Linked DNA regions of Homo sapiens. The protein of the gene in region 1 interacts with the protein of each later gene in a pairwise test. Each region holds a gene or a part of one and is shown on either strand. Other genes may lie near its edges. The genes, in order: MLLT10 and SS18.

Evidence for each region.
Region 2: the proteins of MLLT10 (region 1) and SS18 interact in a two-hybrid assay, tested with the Homo sapiens proteins (one study listed by BioGRID).

The regions. Positions count from the first base shown.
Region 1 is NC_000010.11:21,669,928-21,673,753, reverse strand, and holds part of MLLT10 (protein AF-10), read right to left. Parts: intron 3,306-3,826; coding exon 3,050-3,305; intron 405-3,049; coding exon 1-404. UniProt on the Homo sapiens protein: Probably involved in transcriptional regulation. In vitro or as fusion protein with KMT2A/MLL1 has transactivation activity. Binds to cruciform DNA.
Region 2 is NC_000018.10:26,035,087-26,038,912, reverse strand, and holds part of SS18 (protein SSXT), read left to right. Parts: intron 1-253; coding exon 254-358; intron 359-2,989; coding exon 2,990-3,082; intron 3,083-3,785; coding exon 3,786-3,826. UniProt on the Homo sapiens protein: Appears to function synergistically with RBM14 as a transcriptional coactivator. Isoform 1 and isoform 2 function in nuclear receptor coactivation. Isoform 1 and isoform 2 function in general transcriptional coactivation.

The DNA.
Region 1 (3,826 bases):
TTTGTTTCCTTTGGGTCTGCCAGGCCCATGCTTACTTTGTTTATTTCCTTTCCTTTTCTTTTCCTTTACAGTTTCTTCTTCTATGCCAGAAGTTTGAGCCCGCTTATATCCTGCTGTAGGAAGGCTGGAATTACCCAAATCTCCAGGTGAATTTTCAAAGCTTTTAGGCTGTGAAGTAACAGCTGAGGTTGAAGGGAGGCCAATTAAGGTACTAAAACTATTTACCCCCCCTTCCTGGCTTCCAGACTCTCCTTTATGTACATCTTTGGTTGCTGATGACTGTTGGGAGTGAGAGTAACTGTCATTACGCAGATCTGAGTCTGTAAAGCTCAGGAAATCCTGGGGAGACTGCACTGAACTTCCAGAAGATGACTTTACACTGCCTGGAGTTCCTGAAAAACTGCCTGTAGTTTAAAAAAAAAAAAAAAAAAAAAAGTTGGGGGGTGGGGGGGACAGAAAAATTGGATGCTAAAGTTCCCATAAGCAGCAGACATGATATAATCATTAAAGAGAAGAGTTTAAAAAAATTAACTACAACACTTAGGACATTCGTATATTAAGACTTGTCAAATTTATCCCCAAAATTACCTTTAAAAACATGTGTCATTTTATAGATGGTATTAAATGTTTACTGTGGAATTGCAAGCTATTACTTAAATAATTATTAAGATATAAGATGCGCTTTATTTCACCTACCTTTTGCCACAGCAACATTCCGCAATTCTCCCCCAAACACCTCATGTATGCCTGAGGAAGGACTACAGAACAGTAGTCTCCTTTCCACAGTCATGCAAGAAGACCTAACAAGACTATAATCTGACTCTAAATGTCTAGGGGAACTTCTTTTTTGAATATTGAAGGTATGATTGAAAATGTTCCCAATATACAATAAGAACTTAAGAAGTTTCCTAGGTTATGAGTTCTAAGTTTTAACTTTAAGACATACTAGTGATTGTTATTGTTCAGCTGAATCTACCATAATAGAAAATGGATTTGACAAAATAATGATCATATGGAATCTAATCTATATCTCACATTCTCCCAATCCAATTTTCATGGAACTTCATAAAGAAATCAGCCATCACTGCTTATTCTTTCTTTAAAGAACATGAGTACCCCACCATACCATTCTAAGATATAAGAAACTTAGGCTGGGTGCAGTGGCTCATGCCTGTAATCCCAGCACTTTGGGAGGCCGAAGCGGGAGGATCATGAGGTCAGGAGTTCAAGACCAGCCTGACCAACATGGTGAAACCCCCGACTCTACTGAAAATATAAAAATTAGCCGGGGGTGGTGACGTGTGCCTCTAATCCCAGCTACTCAGGAGGCTGAACCCGTCTCTACAAAAAATTTAAAAATGAGCTGGGCATGGTGACGCATGCTTGTGGTCCCATCTACTTGGGAGACAAAGGTGGAGGCAAAAGCTAATTGAGGGTCTGAAGCAGGAAGAATGCTTGAGCCCAGGAGGTCAACCTTGCAGTGAGCCGTGATCACATGACTGCCCTCCAGCCTGGGCAACAAAGCAAGGCCCTGTCTCAAAATACACACACACACACACACACACACACACACACACACACACACTGAAAACCTGGAAAACAGGTTAGTGTGTTAACCTGTTAAACTTCAAACTTTATAACAAATGCATTATTAATCAACAACTTATTTACTGAGACCTATGTAAATCCCCTAAAAATTGTCTAGTATTTGTTTATCTACTAAAAAATGTAAACCTTGATTGTATTTATTTATTTAGTGGGTTTTATTGTTTGTTTTTGGTTTTTTGTTTGTTTGTTTTTTGAGGCAGGGTCTTGTTCTGTCGCCTAGGCTGGAGTGCAGTGGCACAATCACGGCTCACTGTAGCTTCAACCTCCCTGGGTCAAGCAATCCTCGCACTGTAGCCTCCTGAGGAGCTGGGGCCACAGGCAGACATCACCAAGCCTGGCTAATTTTGTTTGCCTGTCCAAGGAGACAGGGTCTCACTCTGTCACCCAGGCTGAAGTGCAGTAGTGCAATCTCAGCTCACTGCAGCCTCAACCTCCTGGGCTCAAGCAATCCTCCCACCTCGGCCTCTGAAGTAGCTGGGACTATAGGCATGTGCCACCATGCCTGGCTAATTTTGTATTTTTTAGAGAGACAGGGTTTTGCCATGTTGCCTAGGCTGGTCTCCAACTCCTAAACTCAGATGATCCACCTGACTGAGCCTCATAATACTGGGATTACAGGCATGAGCCACTGTGCCCAGTTCACACCCAGCTAATTTTTAAATTTTTTGTAGAGATGAGGTCTTACCACATTGCCCAAGCTGGCCTCAAGAGTTCTGCCCACCTCAGCATCCCAAACTGCTAGGATTATAGATGTGAGCCACCACGCCCGGCCAACCTTAATTGTTTTTAATGTTTAGGAAATATAAATAAAAAACATTTATGGAAAAGACACCAGGAACAGTATCTCACACCTGTAATCCTAGCACTTTGGGAGGCCAAGGCGGGAGGATCACCTGAGATCAGCAGTTCGAGACCAGCCTGGCCAACATGTGAAATCCCATCTCTACTAAAATACAAAAACTGGCCAGGCATGGTGGCATGCACCTGTAATCCCAGCTACTCAAGAGGCTGAGGCACAAGAATCACTTGAACCTGAGAGGCGGAGGTTGCAGTGAGCCGGCCACTGCACTCCAGCCCAGGCAACAGAGCGAGATTCCGTCTCAAACAAAAAGAAGGACTGTTCTACAGAACTCAAAGCAAAGCTCCAGCTTTTATTATTTTTCTCCCCAATTTTAAGCATTATTCCATATCTAGTTAAACATTAAAATTACAATTCAACTCTGGAAGCACAAATCATATTATAAAAGGAAAGAAAAAGTCCCTATTAAAAAAATTTAATAGGAAACACTATCTTTAAAGTAATCTTACTAAAGCAACTAATCATATAATAATCTAGAACATCCATTAGTTATAAGTTCAAAAACAAACCAATTATTTTACAAAGCATAACTATTATTAACCATCTTAAACACAAGTATTTTAACTAAAACATCACTAATACCTTGAGGAAAAGGGCTAGCTGCTGACACAGTTGTTCCTGGATTTCTTCCACCACCAGGCTTTCTTCCCCTTTGACCTGAGCTGTGAGCTGAAGATTTCTTCCCTTTGCCCTCTGACCCTCTAGTCTCTGAAACATCTTTTCCACTAGAGGTGTGTGCAGAGACTTCCTGGAAATTTGCATTTGTAAATCGTGCAGTAGTATCTTCCAAGCGCTTCAATGATCCAGATATAGAGTTGTTGCTAGTGCTTGTATAAGTCTAACATTTTGATTCAAAAAGGGAAGGAAAAAGAGTTGATTACATTTTAGTTACAGAAAACAATGGGTGCCACATTAATAAGAAGAACTTGCAGAATAAACACAAAGTTTCTGTTCTAAAAATAAGTCAGTTCACCTAAGAAAATCATCCAAAAACAATTTAAGTCTATTATAATTACTTTTAAAAAAAGAAAAGAAAAGAAAAAGCCTACATAATTTAAAGATGGCTGTTTCAGGATCAAATTGCAACAACTAGTAAAAGTATGTATTAGTTATATTTATGAAGTGACACAGTAATACTGAAGATACTCATTTGTCAAGCAACATCATTTTTTTTTAACAATGTCTACACTTCCTAGACATGAAATTAAAATAAGCTTTAGTATTCAACACAGGAAGGTGACAATAAGGGAACTAAGGTGCTACAAATCCATTAGAGGACCATATCCATGAGTTTATAAGGCTAGCGGAGGACAGAGCAAAACTTTTGAAGGAAACCAGGTGAGGGCCCCTTTGCAAAAA
Region 2 (3,826 bases), on another chromosome or scaffold:
CATTTGTTTTTCTGAGTTGGTATTTTTTGATACTGCATGTATGGTCTTAACATTGATTTTAGTAAATGTGGTATGTGGAGCTGCTGTGTATGTATGCATATGTATATGAATAGCTAAAAGTATCTGAAATGCCAAATTATGAGATGGGAATCTATAGTTGAGAAATAATCTTTCATAATATCAAATTAGAAAGAAAGCCTTTGATGACATAGAGAACACATTATTTATATCTTGACTGGTTGTGGTTTTTCAGGCCCACCACAGCAGTACTCAGGCCAGGAAGACTATTACGGGGACCAATACAGTCATGGTGGACAAGGTCCTCCAGAAGGCATGAACCAGCAATATTACCCTGATGGTAATCTCTCCTGATGTTAACTTTCCCATTTTCTATCCCTGCCTAATATTAATGTAGAGAGTTATTTAAAACATTTCAGTGAGGACGAAGAAACTAACAATTTGTTTCCTCTAAATTTTGAAACACTTCAGTACTCTAAAGTACCAATGATAGCATTAGTTTATAATCTAATTCAAAGTATATTTTAGGTGTTCCATTAGTACCATCAGGAATCACAGTCTGTCATTGGAATCCTTATGTAAAAGGATCTTTTTGTAATATGTTTAGGGTTGTTTGATTTCAGCCAAAGCTTATGTTTATTGATTTACTTTTTTTTAATAAGAGCTTCATTAAGATATAATTCACCTGCCATAAAGTTCACCCATTAGTTGACTTGTATTAATTGTACAAATACATAGAGTATATAGTTCTCAAGTTATTTTTCCAAGTCTCATCATTTTAATTAATGTTTCATACTTCTCAACAAACTAAGGTTTACATTAGTGCTTGCCTTTGAGAAAAATTTGGGAGACTAAATTATATCCATAATATAGCCATATAGAGATTGAGTAGAATGGGAAAGGCAATTTGGAAATAAGATTTTTAGTTAGGGTTTTTTGTTTTTTGTTTTTTTGTAGAAAGTGGCTTGTGAAAAATTGGTTAGTAAGATGCACTGTACTTCAGGAAAATTTGAATAGCAATAATCCAAGCATACAAGTAGGTTTTCACAGTACAGTTTCATCAATTTTTCTGTATGCTTGAAAATTTTATAATACAGTGTAGAAGAAAAAATAATTCAGAAATACATTACAAAATGATGTGGGTTGTTAGGGTTTGCCAAAAGCCTTATTCATGTATATGATCCTTTGATGTAAATATAAATTACTGAACAGAGAAACTAAGAAACTTAAAGCTAAAGTATTAGCAGCCATTGACTAGCAGCCCATGTAAGCTAGCAAGAAGATACAATTTAGGATATTTGAAAAAACATCTCACCTGTCATTTTTTGTTAATACATAAAACATAAAGGTACATTTGTACTTAAGGACATTGGTTTTTGTTTTGTTTTTTCTTTTCATATGTAAACATGGTATTAAGATTTTTTTAAATTAAAAACTTTAGTAAGATTGTTGTAGACTCTACGTATTTTAAAGACGTGAAATCTACTTTGTTAAATTATATGTATTAAGAAGTCTGCTGAAAATAAATGATTGTTTCTATTTTTTAATTTTTAATTACATTTTAAAGAATTAAATTTGACATTGTTGTTTTGATCCTGGGTATCTCTTGAAATGTGACATGTGTATTGTTATAACCTTTCTGTTCAAAATATATTGGTTTGTTATTTTGTAAATATCAAAACATTAAGGTTACTTTAATTCATTTTATTAGTGGATTTTAATTTGAAGGGTATCATTTTTGCATAGGTGTATATTACTTTATATCTGACATTTACATAGAGTATTCTATTTATGTCGACAATTAATATTTGTAAACAACATTGGCTCTTTTCTCTCATGTCCGGATATTTATGTTAGTAAATATATAGATTAGGAATTGGCAAACTTTTTCTGTAAAGGGCCAGATAATAAATACTTTAGTCTTTGTGGGCCATATGGTTTTGGTCTCAGCTACTGAACTCTTATTGTAGCATGAAAGCAGCTATGGACAATACTGAAATGAATAGGCATGACTGTATTCCAATAAAATTTTATTTACAAAAACTTGCCACTGGCCATATTAAGACTGCAGGCCATAGTTTGCCAACCCTTCATGTAGGTATTTATGAGGTGGCTTGGGAACATTAGAATACTAGAGCACTGAGTATAATGTTCATTTGTAATTTTATTCCTGTGTCCTTAATTAGGCATTTTTGTAAAATTGAGTTTAGATTTTAGGTAACTAAAAGGTTATTTCCTACATTTTCTTAGTGAAACTTTAAAAAAAAGAGTGAGAGTATTTTTCACTAGAGTCCAATTATCTCGCAGGTAAAATTTATTGTGCTTTAAAACTAAAGATATACTCTGTCAACACAATATTAATTTTATGAAGATGTATGTTTATGATACTTGAAATATTTTCTAAAGATTTCCAAAATGGCAGCATTAAGATATATAATTTTGCATCTGAAGATACTTTGAGATACTTAACTTTATGCAAGTAAATGTTAGAACTTGAAAATTTTTCAGTTTCTTTCAGGGGAAAAACTTATGGAACTCTTTTATATTTTGCATTGTTTTTAGCATATGCTGTGGAATTGGAGACCAGCAGAACAGGTGTTTGACAAAATATGATAATTGCTTCCTTTGTTCATTCTAATTTAATTTAGGTTATTTACATGTGAAAGACTTTTATTCTCTTTGTTTTTTTAAATGGGAGATAGTTTTTTTTCCCTCAATGAGGATTATCAGATTTAAGACAATAAGTGTAATGTTTCTAAAACTACTGCTTTTTGCTTTTAAAAAAATTTGCACGTTATCTCAATATGAAAACAATCACATTGGTAAATCTTTGGCTAATGCAATTGAAATTATTTTTTATGTTCCATTTCTTTTTCTTTTTTTTCAATTTTATCTGAAAGTTTAAATATTTTTAGGGTTTTCACTCAGTGGCCATTAACGTTTCTTCCTGTCTCTTGTCGAATTGATGTAGGTCATAATGATTACGGTTATCAGCAACCGTCGTATCCTGAACAAGGCTACGATAGGCCTTATGAGGATTCCTCACAACATTACTACGAAGGAGGTATCTATATACCTTCACACACATACACATATATATCCCCTTCTACAGGAATGAAAATTCTTGCATAAGACAACTTCTACCCATGCAAAGCTCTTGTAGAATACTAGTTGCTGGCTTTCTTGAAAGTTGCAGGGAGCCCAAAACAATCAAAATAATTTCCTTACAAATATTTAAAATGTATAACCATGACTTGCCATTTCTAACAATAATAAAAAGACTAAAACATTAAAGATAATTTTTTCCTCAGTGGAAATTTTCTATTTGAACATAAATCCATCAAACTTTTTTTTCTCGTGTGTGTTTACATATGTATAATTTTACATATAAGTATAGTGCCTTTAGGAAACAGCTTGCTGATCTCGTGTAGCTAGTGTGTGCTCTTGTAGCTGTCTTTAATTTTGTCTTTTTTATTTTATTTAGCATAGTCATGATCTTATGACTGTGATGTTCCAGTAAATGTAATGCTCGTATGGCAGAGACGCTGAAAATGCTGCAGTTCAACCTTGCAAAATTGGCTTTAACTGCAGTTTGTTTGGCCGAAATCCTTCTGTTTGGTTTGAGTTTTTTCTTTGTTTTGTTAACTTCTAAAAATCAATATGGCATTTCATTTTGTTCTTGTGTTGTTGGCTATGCATCTTAGAGGGAAAAAAGTTACTTAAGCAGACTTCTCAGTTTTTTTTCCTCTTCTCCAATTATCCTGTAGGAAATTCACAGTATGGCCAACAGCAAGATGCATACCAGGGA